Homo sapiens: one gene and its partners. The protein of the gene in region 4 purifies or fractionates together with the protein of the main gene of each other region. This does not show direct contact. Each region holds a gene or a part of one and is shown on either strand. Other genes may lie near its edges.

Region 1 (3,500 bases), on a different chromosome or scaffold from region 4:
TGTAACTAATATTTTCAAGTATACTAATATATTTTTTAATCCCTTACTATAATCTTTACTACAATCTTTTTACTACATGATCGCCCCACTTTTTTTTTTTTTTGGTTGCATATATTGGTATTTTTTAACTTTCATTCCTCATCTCAGTATTATCAAATATTTGCTGCTGTGTCAACCATAGCATTCAAGTGACATGTCTTAATAAGATATTGTTTCTGAATTTTAAATGATAGAAATCTGAATGATAACGTTCATTTTGCGTTGTATTCAACTTGGAAGAAAAGGATAGTTTTAAATTAGATTTCTAATAAATGCTACCTGATTAAGATAGTTTTTTTCAAAGCACATTCCAGGCATGTTGATTATAAAAACAATAGGAGACAAACATTTTCTATTTACATGCTGTATTTTTTAGATCCCTGAAGACATCAAAAACCTATTCAGTTTATGGATATACAGTCCTCCACTTCAATATTTTTGGCAATTTTGTTTCTCATTAAGCACTTTTGCTTAGATGTTGAGTCAAGCAGAGGAAAGACCAGAGACAGATATTTAGGGTAGCTTTCACTTAGCAGTGCCAGTAAAAGATGTAAGAGAGAGACTTAAAGTCATTTTTAAATTTAGTAGATCATATCATTGTAATCCAGTACTTCATATAATTGCAGATTTGTCCATTGAATAATTAATGAAGTTAAGGGATTGATTGGCAAACCTTGGTTATCAATGTAAATAACATTAACTAGAAATTGTAATTTGTACATAATTATGAAGACATAATTGACCCTCCATATCTGTGGGTTCCATATCTAGGGATTCATCCCATCGCAGTTTGAAAATATTCAGGGGGAAAAAGGAAAAAGGATGGTTGTCACTGTACTGAACATGTACAGACTTTTTTTTCTTGTCATTATTCCCTAAACAATATTATCTAATAACTATTTACATAGCATTTACATTGTATTAGGCATTATAAGTAATCTAGAGATGATTTAAAGCATACAGAAGCATGTGTATAGATTTTATGCAAATACTACACCATTTTACATAAGGGAATTGAGCATTAGTGGACTTTGATGTCCACAGGGGTCCTGAAACCAATTCCCTGAGGATACCAAGAGATGACTTTATGTATTTATGATGTGTGATTTTGTGTTTTAAAAAAGGATTGGGAAGTTCAGCCATGAATATACAAATGCTTTTGGAAAAACTCAAAGGAATTCCCCAGTTAGAAGGCCAGAAGGACATGATAACGTGGATACTTCAGGTAAACTAAAAAAGTAAAGTGATCATATCTTGGTTTAAATATTTAAGAATTCTCTGCTTGCCTCCAGTGTTAAACCACTGTACCATTGTAGACATTTACTACTGGTTTTCATAATCACTTATTTTTCATGTTAATAATTCTATTTTCCTATATTTTATTGTAGTTTTAAAAATAAACTAAGATTTATTCATTTTTTTTGTCGTTATTTAGTCAACTTTACTGAAAACCTACCATGTGCCATGCTCACTTATAGATTTCTAGATGGAACAAGGCAGACAAGGTGCTTACTATCATGGAACATATACTCCAGTTGAGGGACAGACATTAAACAAATAAATAAACAAAAATATCAGGGTAATTCAATAGATGAGTAAGGGGTTACTTTGGGTAATTAGGGAAGGCCTCTCTCAAAACACGACATTAGAGCTAAGACCTTAATGACATGGAGTCAGTCTTAGAAGAGTCTGGAAGAGTACTCCAGGAAGAGGGAACAGCAGTGCAAAAGCTCTGTGGTGGCCAGAAAGAAGGTCAGTATGGCTGGAACATAATGGGTGAGGGATGGAAAAGTGGGCAATGAGATCAGAGGGGTGGCCAGGGGCCGGATCTTGTAGGTCCTTATAAGTCAGCATAAAGTGATAATTTTTTAGGACAATGGGAAAATATTGGAGGATTTTAAGTGACCTAATCTATATTTGTACAAGATGGTATTGGCTGCTGTGGAGTAAATGGATTATGGGGGATAGGCATACAAGTAAGGAAACTGTTAGGAGACTGTTGCAGTAATCTTGATATGAAATAAGCATGACCTAGGCTAAGATGCAGATAGTAAGAATCTGAACTGATTAAGGTGCATGTCGAAGGTGTATGAAGATAAAATCTATAGTACTTGCTCATCAGTCTGATGGGAGAGATGAAGGAAATAAATCAAAGATGAGGCTGGGCATGGTGGCTAGCACCTGTAATCCCAGCACTTTGGGAGGCCAAGGCAGGCAGATCACCTGAGGTCAGGAGTTCGAGACCAGTCTGGCTAACATGGTGAAACCTCATCTCTGCTAAAAATACAAAAAATTAGCCAGGCATGGTGGGGCACACCTGTAGTCCTAGCTACTTGGGAGGCTGAGGCAGGAGAATTGCTTGAACCAGGGAGGTGGAGATTGCGGTGAGCCAAGATCGCACCACTGCACTCCAGCCTGGGTAACAGAACAAGAGTCTGTCTCAGAAAAAAGGAAATCAAAGATGACTCCTGGATTTGGTGCTTGAGCTATTGAGTAGATAGCATTGCCTTTGGAGACGAGTGAATTAAATAAGCAGGGGAGAGAGAGGCCAGGAATGTTACTTTAATGGAAAACCTCCACATAGAAACATAAAACCGGCCAGGCACGGTGGCTCACGCCTGTAATCCCAGCACTTTGGGAGGCGGAGGCGGGTGGATCACAAGATCAGTAGTTCAAGACCAGCCTGGCCAAGATGGTGAAACCCTGTCTCTACTAAAAATACAAAAAAAAAAAAAAAATTAGCTGGGCGTGGTGGCAGGCGTGGTGGCAGGCGCCTGTAATCCCAGCTACTCAGGAGGCTGAGGCAGGAGAATCGCCTGAACTCTGAGGGCGGAGGTTGCAGTGAGCCGAGATCGCACCACTGCACTCCAGCCTGGGCGACAGAGTGAAACTCTGTCTCAAAAAAAAAAAAAAAAAAACCTGAAGCCAGGATTATGGAGCTTCTGCACTCATTGCATTCATTAAGATATTCTGATGTTTTTAGGTAAGTATTGTTTTGATAATCAGAATATATAAAGTAGTTATTTTTCACATTCTTATCAATTGGAAATCTTGGTACTGATTTATACTTTTAAGAGGGCAGCTCTTCTTACCATTTTATTAGAAACAGTCCTTAAGCATGATGTAATATCATTATTGGCCTGGCGTGGTGGCTCACGCCTGTAATCCCAGCACTTTGGGAGACTGAGGCGGCGGGGTCACGAGGTCAGGAGATCGAGACCATCCTGGCTAACATGGTGAAACCCCGTCTCTACTAAAAATACAAAAAACATTAGCCAGGTGTGGTGGCGGGTACCTGTAGTCCCAGCTACTCAGGAGGCTGAGGCAGGAGAATGGCTTGAACCCGGGAGGTGGAGCTTGCAGTGAGCCGAGATAACACCACTGCACTCCAGCGTGGGCGACAAAGCGAGACTCCGTCTCAAAAAAAAAAAGATAGTGATATTATTAAAATTCTTCTTGAA
Region 2 (3,668 bases), on a different chromosome or scaffold from region 4:
CCAACCCGGAGGAGGCAGCGGCAGTCACGGGCACGCTTCCCCAACCCACCCTCCCACCCACTCTTAGGGTCAGGACACCCGCGTCCGGCCGGGGCAGGGGCGGCTCTGACCACGCGAGAAGCAGGTGCGTCCGCAGTCCCAGCTTGTGCCGGGAAGACCACCGGCCAGAACCCCGGGGGTTGGGGGTAGAGGTCGGCTAGGCTGGGGAGGGGGGCGCCCGAGGCTCCGGGTCCTGCACGGCGAGCGGGGCGGCCTCCAGGTAGGGGTGCGGCTCCGCCCACCAAGAAGAGGGTCTGGCGGGAGGTGTGGTTAGTCCCTGAGCTCCCGGCCACAGCGCGGGCTGCTGGGTGGGGTGGGGGGGGAGCGGGGGCGCCAGCACCCACGTGCGCCTGGGGCGCCTTCTGAGGAGGCCACCGCCTGTGTCGGTGTCGGCGTGGGGGCCTGGCTCCGACGGCTGGGACCATCCCTCCCAGGGCGTCCGGGGCCCAGATTCGCACTTGCCGGGCGCCCCCGGGGGCCACTGGCTGCACGGCGCTCTTTAAGGCCAACAGCCCTGAGTTCACGGGACTGAAATCGGCACAGAGAGGCCGAGGACCTGTGGTCGGGGCTCCGCGCAAGCGGTTCTCCGGTCTCCGAGGACACCGAGAGGCGGAGAGGAGGACCCTGGGTTGGGGGTGGGTAGCCGGGAGGGACCGAGCAGGCTGGTGCCCACCCTGACGCCCGAGGATCGGGGAGAGGCTGGGCCAGGGAAAAGCCGGGCGAGGGCGGATCCCCCGAGCCGATCCCCCAGACCAGCTCTCTCCGGGCGGTGCGACCCCACACTGGACCCCACTCGCCCGCGGTCGGAGGCCAAGCGTTTGCATGCGCAGCTCCCCGCGCCTCGCGAGCATCGAGCAGCTCCCTCAGGATCGCTCCTGACCTGCTGAGCTCCAGCCACAGATTTCCCACTTCCTCAGCTTTTCTCCCGCCGGCCTTGCGCTCTGGAGGTCTCGCCCCGGCGCCGCCTCCTCCAGGCAGTCCTCTAGACTGCATCCGCCATGGGCCTGGACGCTGCTCCCGGGGGCAGCCCCCGGCCAGGGCCAGGCACACCCGATTCCTGGAGCGTCCTAGGTTCCTCTAAACCCGCGGCCAGCGCAGTCTCGGGTTTCCATGACGACGACGTCGGATGGGGAACCCGGGCGGGGTCGGGTCGGAGCGCATGCGCGTTGCGCGCCGGACGCGGAACGTCTGCCGGTGTCCCCGCGCTGCTGGTCCCGGGGTCCCTGAACCGCGGTAAGGGCGGTGGTGCGGGCGTCCGAATGGGCGTTTTCTAGATACGGGGCGCGGACTAGAGGCTCGCTGGGCCCGGAGACCGGCGGACTGGAGTCGGGGAACCGGAGGTGGGGAGGGGGCTCCCGGGCCCGGGGTGGGTGGGTCCAGGGCTCCCAGGCCTGGGGCTTGGACAAGGGTCGTGGGGCCCGCGGGAGGGGACGGGGGCTCACCGGCCCGGGGCGGGCGGGGCGGGCGCCGCTGACCCCTCGCTGGCTTCAGGGCGGCCCCGCTCCCTCTGCTGGCCATGGCCCCCCCGCCCGCGTGCCGGTCCCCGATGTCACCGCCGCCGCCGCCGCTGCTGCTGCTGCTGCTGAGTCTGGCGCTGCTGGGCGCCCGGGCCCGCGCCGAGCCCGCCGGGAGTGCCGTCCCCGCGCAGAGTAGGTGCCGGGGGCCGGGTTCCGGGGAGCGGGGCGGGGCTGGCGACAGGGGCGTGCGGGGCCGGGGCTCTGCGGGGAGGACCGCGCCTCGCCTTTGTTCCCGGGAGCGGGTCCTCCCCTTCGCGGGAGATGGTGGCTTGGGGAGTGGGGACGTGCGCTCTTTGGCACTGGGTGGACGGGCCCAGAGTGCGTGGGGGCCTTGCGGGTGACCCCCCCTGCGCCCCCTCCACCCTGACCCGCGCCCCCCGCAGGCCGCCCATGCGTGGACTGCCACGCCTTCGAGTTCATGCAGCGCGCCCTGCAGGACCTGCGGAAGACAGCCTGCAGCCTGGACGCGCGGGTGAGCGCCCGCGGCGCGACGGTCCTCCCGGGCTTCCCAGGGGGTGGGGAGGGCAGGGAGGATGAGGAAGAGGCCCCCTGCGGGAGTGGAGTGTCCCTCATCCTTCACCCCGATTTAAGATGCCGCACCTTGCCCCCTTCCTCTGGCTCCAGTCATCCAAGGGGCATTCTGGGCACCTGTCTCACCTATGAGACGCCCCTCTCTCCAGCATACTCTATTTCTAGCCCCTCCCCCAGAAGGCTCTCACTGGGCACTTTGTCCTATGACCGCCACTCCTGAGGGCTGTGACAGATCTGGACCCTGGGGAAGGACTGTCAGCCCAATCCAGGATCCCCTAGGTGGGCGGCAAGGCCCCAGGGCAGAGGAGAAACTGAGGCCGGAGGATGTGGCGAAAGTGTCAGGAATGGGGGGTCAGGCTGGGCAGGGTGGTCTGGATCCTGGGTGGATGCACAGGTTGGTTAAGGCCCCTCCAAGCCTGGATGAACAGGGAGCCCCCACGCCATGGGGTGCAGCCAAGGAGTTTTTGTTTGTGCCGGGGCTCAAGCTTCTTCCTGGAAAGGGAGAATTCTAGGAAGGAGAAAGCAGGGAAGACCCTGCCTGGTCCCACCCCCCACCAGCCCTAGTGTCCTTCTTGGGAACACTCCAGAGGGCTCCGACTAAGACCTGGAGCCCTCTCCCCACTCACAGAGCCTGGAACTGAGCTCTTGGGAGGAGCAGCCCCCACCTATCCTTAGGCATGAGGGTGGCAGGGAGTGGGGGACAGTGGACCCCTGCGGGTGGTGTGGGAGCTGGAAGAAGGCAGGTGGGCACGCTGGCATGGCGTGGGCACCAGCAGACCCCAGGCAGGCCCCACCAGTGGGAGCCACTGCAGAGGAAAGAGATGAGTGGGAGGCTCTGGGTGTGGGGGTTAGAGCCAGGGCCTGACCTTGTCTGTCTCAGGAGCCGGTGGAGATAGGGCTGCCTTGGGTGGGTGGAGGCCCAGGGGAATGCCAGTGGGCAGCTGGGCTGCACCCTCACCCCTCTTGTTGCTTTGCAGACGGAGACCCTACTGCTGCAGGCAGAGCGCCGTGCCCTGTGTGCCTGCTGGCCAGCGGGGCACTGAGGACCACGCTGCTCCGTGTGAATAAATGCCCAGTGGCACGCCTGTGTCCTGTCTCTCTGTTCTGGCCACCAGAGCCCCTGCGTCGCCCCCGGCAGTCCTGGGTTGGGCCCCTCTCTGGGCTTGGGTTTCCCCAGCTGTTCCAGCTGGGCGAGCCCTCTTGGCTGCTGTCCCATACCAGTGCCCGTGCGGAGAGGTGGACACACACGTCCGACCTCAGTGACCTGTGCTTCCTCGTACCTGCTCCCCTGCCTGCCTCCCCTTGTTTTGAGGCTGGGGAAGTGTAGAAATCGGCCTGACCCCCCTGAGCCCCCAGAGCAGCTGCCCCAGGGCTGAGCCCCTCCAGGCTCCTGCACCACTGAACTGGTGGACCAGCTGCCTGAGACTGTGGGAGACAGAGGGTCCCGGGGAGAGAGGGCAGGGCCACCCCACACAGCATCATCTCCCCTGCCAGCTCCCACCTGCAGCCCTGAGCCTGGACCCTGGTCACTGGGGAGCTCTGGATGGGAACTTGATGAGGCCGTACTGCCATCCACACACC
Region 3 (3,500 bases), on a different chromosome or scaffold from region 4:
AGAAGAGACTGGAAAGCAGAAGAAATGGAAAGTAAATGAGAGCCTATTTCAGGGACTCGCTGCTCATGGCACAGCAGTTTTGCTGATTTTTCACATTGTTCAACTAATATGCTCACGCTAAAATTCCCCAGCTTTACTAAGTTGGCAGTTAACCCTTTCCCTATAGAGCCCATAGATTTATGAGCCATACATTTAGTAACTTCAGGAGGATGCTTCTTTAACTCTTTCTCTTCAGCTTTTTATCTGAAATCTCTACCCTTCAGGCCTCTCTTCCAATTCCTCAAAGAAGATGTCCTTGTGATTGTTACATTTAAGGGACAAAAATATGGTGTTCTCTATTGAGAGCGCCAAAAATACTAAACCGGAATTCCTCCATAGGCTCAGTATTTGCCTCAAAAATGTCCCAGCACTTTGAGAGGCTGAAGTGCGCAGATCACTTGAGGTCAGGAGTTCGAGACCAGCCGGGCCAACATGGCAAAACCCCATCTCTACTAAAAATACAAAAATTAGCTGGGCGTGGTGGCACACACCTGTAGTCCCAGCTACATGGGAGGCTGAGACAAGAGAATCACTTGAACCCGGGAGGCAGAGGTTGCAGTGAGCCCAGATGGCGCCATTGCACTTCAGTCTGGGCGACAGAGAGAGCCTCCATCTCAAAAAAATAAACAGAACAACAACTTTCTAGAGCTGCTCTCTTGAGAGACAACTGAGGAGTCACTATGGTTAAGTGTTTAGTAAATGTTACTATTATTACTACGTAGTGGGCATTGTGCTAAGCCCTTTACTTGGATTATATCCTCCATGATTTCACTTATGAAGACTTTAGCGATTTTTGTTTGTTTGTTTCTTTTTTTGAGTCTCACTCTGTCGCCCAGGCTGGAGTACAGTGGCACGATCTTAGCTCACTACAACCTCTGCCTTACAGGTTCAAGCAATTCTTGTGTCTTAACCTCCCAAATAGCTGGGATCACAGGTGTGCACCACCATTCCCGGCTAATTTCTGTATTTTTAATAGAGACACGGTTTTGCCATGTTGGTCAGGCTGGTCTCGAACTCCTGGCCTCAAGCAGTCCACCTGCCTTGGCCTCCCAAAGTGCTGGGATTATTACAGGCGTGAGCCACCATGCCTGGACTTTAGTTTTTTGTTTTTTTGGGTTTTTTTGAGACAGAGTCTCACTCTGTCGCCCAGGCTGGAGTGCAGTGGCGCGATCTCGGCTCACTGCAACCTCTGCCACCCAGGTTCAAGCGACTCTCCTGCGTCAGCCTCCTAAGTAGCTGGGATTACAGGTGCCTGCCACTGTGCCTAACTAACTTTTGTAGTTTTAGTAGAGACGGGGTTTCACCATCTTGGCCAGGCTGGTCTTGAACTCCTGACCTCGTGATCCATCCTCCTTGTCCTCCCAAAGTGCTGGGATTACAGGCGTGAGCCACCATGCCTGGCCAGACTTTATTTTTTATTATTTATTTATTTATTTATTTATTTATTTATTTTTGAGACAGAGTCTCGCTCTGTTGCCCAGGCTGGAGTGCAGTGGCGTGATCTTGGCTCACCACAACCTCCACCTCCCAGGTTCCAGTGATTCTCCTGCCTCAGCCTCCTGGATAGCTGGGACTACAGGCACATGCCACCACGCCCAGCTGATTTTTGTATTTTTAGTAGAGATGGGGTTTCACCATCTTGGCCAGGCTGGTCTTGGAACTCCTAATCTCGTGATCTGCCCACCTCAGCCTCCCAAAGTGCTGGGATTACAGGCATGAGCCACCACTGCGCCCAGCTAGACTTTAGTTTTTATAGTGAGGCTTGAGATTTGCATCTCCACTGGTCTCTTTGACATCTCAGAGGATCCATTCTGAACTTGCTAGGTTTCTTTCCCCTGCTGAATTGAGTTCTGCATCTTGAGTCTGCAGCAGTGTGAATCCTATCTTTGGCTCCATTTAACAGCCTATGGACGTTCCCAAACTTGGGACCCAGTTTGTCTCTTCATGATAGACAAATATTATTTTCAGAAGTCATTCTAATCGCACCACTGCACTCCAGCCTGGCAACAGTGAGACTCCATCTCAAAAAAAAAAAAAAAAGTCATTCTAGTAGGTGAGATTTCTGCCAGCATTGAGCCACTGCTCAACATATTCTTGATAATGGTCTCTGAACAGCATTTGATTTTACCTTGGAGTTGCAAAGTCAAAGTCTAACTCGCCAAACAAACTCAGTGTGGAATATACACATTTGTCTCATTCCGGTTTTAAGGAGTTTAGTATACCAGAGCTTTTGTGACCTCTAAAAAGCAGTTATCGTCCATGACAAGAATTGGCTCGTTCACCCTCAGTACTCTGGCTTACTATCCCAGGGAGGGCCGAGGGTGGCAGCAAAAGTGGTCTTTTGTAATCCCTTTTTATAACCTGCTGTTCTCTTCACAGACCTCCCAGGGTACCTTTTTTTGTGTGTGTGTGTGTGAGATGGAGTCTCACTCTCACCCAGGCTGGAGTGCAGTGGCGTAATCTCGGCTCACTGCAACCTCTGCCTCCTGGGTTCAAACTATTCTCTTGCCTCAGCCTCTCAAGTAGCTGGGATTACAGGCACCCGCCACCATGCCTAGCTAATTTTTATTTTTTATTTTTGAGACAGAGTCTCGCTCTGTCACCCAGGCTGGAGTACAGTGGCGCGGTCTTGGCTCACTGCAAGCTGCGTCTCCCGGGCTCACGCCATTCTCCTGCCTCAGCCTCCTGGGTAGCTGGGACTGTAGTCGCCCGTCACCACGCCCGGCTAATTTTTTGTATTTTTAGTAGAGACGGGGTTTCACCGTATTAGCCAGGATGGTCTCGATCTCCTGACCTCATGATCCGCCCACCTCGGCCTCCCTAAGAGCTGGAATTACAGGCGTGAGCCACCGCGCCTGGCCAATTTTTGTAATTTTTAGTAGAGAAGGGTTTTGCTATGTTGGCCAGGCTTGTCTCGAGCTCCAGACCTTAGGTGATCTGCCCGCCTTGGCCTCCCAAAGTGCTGGGATTACAGGCATGAGCCACTGTGCCCAGCCCCAGGGTACCTTGATGGCAGTACTAAAGTGTTTTTATTTTTCCCATCATTTGGGATTCACAAGCAGTTTTTGATATAACTAATTGGTGGGAATGTGCGGAGTTGGGGGTATTGCACTGAGTGATCCTTAGCCGCAGAAGTACAGAGACTAGACAGCTGATACTGATTCATGCCATGTCATTTCCTTCTGGGCATCTTTGCCATTTCATTCACCTCTCTTTGGTCTTTCTGAGTACTAATAGGATTATTAGTGAACTTACCATACTTCAAGAGTTAATTGATTTGCAAAAGGATTTCCTGATGTCTAAAAGTAGAATCAAAAGGATATTAGAGGTTAGAGTTTATTTTAATAAGTTTCTCTGGAAAATTTGAATTTCTGCCCAAAAAATTCATTTTTTATTTGAGACAAGGTTTCACTCTGTCACCCAGATCGTAGTGCCATGGTGCAGTCCTCCTACTTCAGCCT
Region 4 (3,500 bases):
CAGGCTGGTCTCGAACTCCTGACCTTGTGATCCGCCCACCTCAGCCTCCCAAAGTGCTGGTATTACAGACCTGAGCCACTGCATCTGGCCTATTTATTCTTTTTAATTTGTTATTCTTTTTAGAGACACGGTCTCACTATGTTGCTGAGGCTGGTGTCGAACTTGGGCTCAAACGATCCGCACGCCTCGGCCTCCCAAAGCATTGGGATTACTGGCATGAGCCACCACACCTGGCCCCTTCACTTCATTTAAACCTTAGCTCAAATGTCCTTCACTCAGGGACCCTTAACTCCTAAAGCAGTGTCTGGAATGCAGTAGGTACTAGTAAATATCAGTTACATGACTGAACATCACCTCCTCAGAGATACCTTTCTGAGCCATCCTTTCCAAAATATCCAAGTGACTGTTAGTTCCATTTAGTGCAATACGGTATTGCAGTTATGCAAGAAAATATAAAAATGTCTGCATTTGAAATGGGGCAAAATCTTAATTACCGATGACGCTGGATGAGAGTTTACGGGCATTCATTATCTTCATTGCTTTTGTATACATTTGAAATTTTCCATAATAAAGGAATTTAAATCAGAATAGGAAAAATAACAGTTCCCAATATCTATTACTCTCTGCCTGCCTTCTTCTGGTTTATTTTACTTCTTAGAACTGTCAAAGAGGCCGGGTGCAGTGGCTCACGCCTGTAATCCCAGCACTTTGGGAGGCCAAGGCGGGTGGATCACCTGAGATCAGGAGATTGAGACCAGCCTGACCAACATGGCGAAACCCCGTCTCTACTAAAAATACAAAAATTAGCTGGGTGTGGCGGTGCTTGTCTGTAATCCCAGCTACTCAGGAGGCTGAGGCACAAGAATCTGCTTGAACCCAAGAAGCAGAGGTTGCAGTGAGCCAAGATCGTGCCACTGCACTCCACCCAGGGCAACAGGGTGAGACTCTGTCTTGAAAAGAAAAGAAAAAAGAAAGAAAAGAAAAGAAAAAGTTGACAATGCCTTTTTTTTTTTTTTTTTTTTTTGAGACAGAGTCTTGCTCCGTCACCCAGGCTGGAGTGCAGTGGTGCAATCTTGGCTCACTGCAACCTCTGCTCATAGATTGGTGGGGCCAGCCAGGCACGGTGGCTCACGCCTGTCATCCCGGCACTTTGGGAGGCTAGGGCAGGCAGACTTGAGGACCCTGTCTTTACTAAAAATTCAAAAATTAGCTGGACCTGGTGGCGGGCACCTGTAATCCCAGCTACTGGGGAGTCTGAGGCAGGAGAATCGCTTGAACCCAACTTCAAGTGGCACCGGATAACCTAGAGGCAAGATAAAGCCTTTCCAAGAGCCACAGAAGCCTGAGAAGGAAGTCAAGAAACTGAGATCCCTGTGAACTCAGCCCGTACCACCCAATTTGGTTGGACCTCAGTTTCCTCATCTGTTCAGAGGTAGGAGCTACTAGATAAAATAAGGTGTTAAGCTGAGGGCCAAGGGGCCATCATGGGCAGGCTTAGGGAGGGCCATGAGTGCCTGAGATCATATGCACATGTGTGTATGTATGCATGTATTTCTGGGAAAAAGAGTCCTGGCTTTCACTTTCTCACAGGAAGTTCTGAACTCACAAAAGGGGAAGAACTAGTGTCCGGAATCTTTTTTTTTTTTTGAGATGGAGTTTCCCTCCTGTTGCCCAGGCTGGAGTGCGATGGTGTGATCTCAGCTCACTGCAACCTCCGTCTCCCGGGTTCAAGCAATTCTCCTGCCTCAGCCTCTCAAGTACCTGGGATTACAGGCATGTGCCACCATGCCTGGCTAATTTTTTGTATTTTTAGTAGAGGCTGGGTTTCACCATGTTGGTCAGGCTGGTCTCAAACTCCTGACCTCAGGTGACCCACCCACCTCGGCCTCCCAAAGTGCTGGGATTACAGGCATGAGCCACCGCACCCGGCTCAGAATCATCTTTAATATGCAGTTCAACCCTAGCTGGGGTTCTGAGATCCTAGGATTTGAACAATCTGTGATACTGTTATCCAAGTCAGCAGCTCTCCACGTGAGCTCCCAGGACCAGCGGCAGCATCACCTGGGAACTATGGGAAATGCAGATTCTCAGGTGGCACCCCAGGCCACTGAAATCAGAAATTGTGTGCAGGACTGGGAACAACAGTCCGTGTTGAACAAGCCGTCTAGGTGATCCTCTGACTCATTTTTTCAGCACACATTCGGGGCCTACCCTGCACCGGGCCTTGGGATACCCACAGCCCTTGCCCTTGCCAAGCCTCTTCCGTCCAGTCTCTCAAGACCTAGGCCAGGTGCAGTGACTCACGCCTGTAATCTCAGCACTTTGGGAAGCCAAGACCGGTGAATCGCTTGAGCCCAAGGAGTTTAAGACCAGCCTGGGGAGCATAGTGAGACCCTGTCGCTACAAAACTTTTTATAAATAAAAGACCCAACAGAGACTGTTTGTTGAGTCAAAGATCTACTTAGGGCCCCAGGGGAGCCCAGAGGCCTCACATCCATCTTGGATGTTGGAGAAAGGGGTTAGGAAGGAGGTAGTGTTCGAGCTGCCTTAAGAACAAATTTTCCTATGAAAGTTTTTTTTTTTTTTTTTTGAGATGGAGTCTTGCTCTGTTGCCCCAGGCTGGAGTGCAGTGGTGCAATCTTGGCTCACTGCAACCTCCATGTCCCAAGTTCAAGCAATTCTCCTGGCTCAGCCTCCCAAGTAGCTGGGATTACAGGCACACACCACCATACCCAGCTAATTTTTCTGTATTTTTAGTAGAGACAGGGTTTCACCATGTTGGACAGGCTGGTCTCGAACTCCTGACCTCATGTGATCCACCCGCCTCAGCCTTCCAAAGTGCTGGGATTACAGGTGTGAGCCACCGCGTCCAGCTGGAAAGTTTCAGATGTACACAAAAGCAGCTTCAACAATGACCAACTCATGGCCAATTTCCATTGCATCTCTACCCCTATCCACTATCTCTTTTTTTTTTTTTTTTGAGACAGGATCTCACTCTGTCACCCAGGCTGGAGTGCAGTGGTGCAATCACAGCTCACTGTGGCCTCCAGCTCCTGGGGCTCAAGCCAACCTCCCACCTCAGCCTCCTGAGTAGCTGGGACAAAAGGTACACACCACCAGGCCCAGCTACTTTTCATATTTTTTTTTTTGGGAGATGGGGTTTCACCATATTGCCCAGGCTGGTCTCCAACTCTTAGGCTCAAGCAATCCTCCTGCCTTGGCCTCCCAAAGTGGTGGGATTATAGCTGTGAGCCACTGCAGCCAGCCGACAATGGTTTATCTCAAAGCACATGCAATCCACCGTGTTGCTTCATCCATAAATATTTCAAATGTATCTCTAATTAAGACTACTTTAAAACACAGTCACAATACCATGTAAGAAAATTAACAATTCCTTGATATCTAGAGGAATATCTAGACAGAGTTCACATTTACCCAACTGTCTCATAAATATCTTTTTTTTTTAAGCCTGTGTAAATAAGGATTCAAGTAAGGTCTAC

The links. Proteins that work in one complex are often made in the same cells at the same time.
Region 1: the proteins of TGFB1 (region 4) and UBR1 purify together in Homo sapiens (affinity purification with mass spectrometry; 4 studies listed by BioGRID and IntAct, with this or other methods). This does not show direct contact.
Region 2: the proteins of TGFB1 (region 4) and NICOL1 purify together in Homo sapiens (affinity purification with mass spectrometry; 3 studies listed by BioGRID and IntAct, with this or other methods). This does not show direct contact.
Region 3: the proteins of TGFB1 (region 4) and NMT1 purify together in Homo sapiens (affinity purification with mass spectrometry; 3 studies listed by BioGRID and IntAct, with this or other methods). This does not show direct contact.

What each region holds. Positions count from the first base shown.
Region 1 is NC_000015.10:43,019,039-43,022,538, reverse strand, and holds part of UBR1 (E3 ubiquitin-protein ligase UBR1), read left to right. Parts: intron 1-1,163; coding exon 1,164-1,264; intron 1,265-3,500. UniProt on the Homo sapiens protein: E3 ubiquitin-protein ligase which is a component of the N-end rule pathway. Recognizes and binds proteins bearing specific N-terminal residues that are destabilizing according to the N-end rule, leading to their ubiquitination and subsequent degradation.
Region 2 is NC_000004.12:2,040,797-2,044,464, forward strand, and holds NICOL1 (NELL2-interacting cell ontogeny regulator 1 precursor), read left to right. Parts: upstream 1-1,198; 5' UTR 1,199-1,272; exon of another isoform or gene 1,273-1,379; intron 1,380-1,530; coding exon of another isoform or gene 1,531-1,555; coding exon 1,556-1,688; intron 1,689-1,939; coding exon 1,940-2,028; intron 2,029-3,064; coding exon 3,065-3,130; 3' UTR 3,131-3,168; downstream 3,169-3,668. UniProt on the Homo sapiens protein: mRNA-binding protein which interacts with a range of target mRNAs including SERPINE1, ACTA2, CCN2 and COL4A1 and may promote extracellular matrix production.
Region 3 is NC_000017.11:45,067,817-45,071,316, forward strand, and holds part of NMT1 (glycylpeptide N-tetradecanoyltransferase 1), read left to right. Parts: intron 1-3,500.
Region 4 is NC_000019.10:41,333,423-41,336,922, forward strand, and holds part of TGFB1 (transforming growth factor beta-1 proprotein preproprotein), read right to left. Parts: intron 1-3,500. UniProt on the Homo sapiens protein: Transforming growth factor beta-1 proprotein: Precursor of the Latency-associated peptide (LAP) and Transforming growth factor beta-1 (TGF-beta-1) chains, which constitute the regulatory and active subunit of TGF-beta-1, respectively.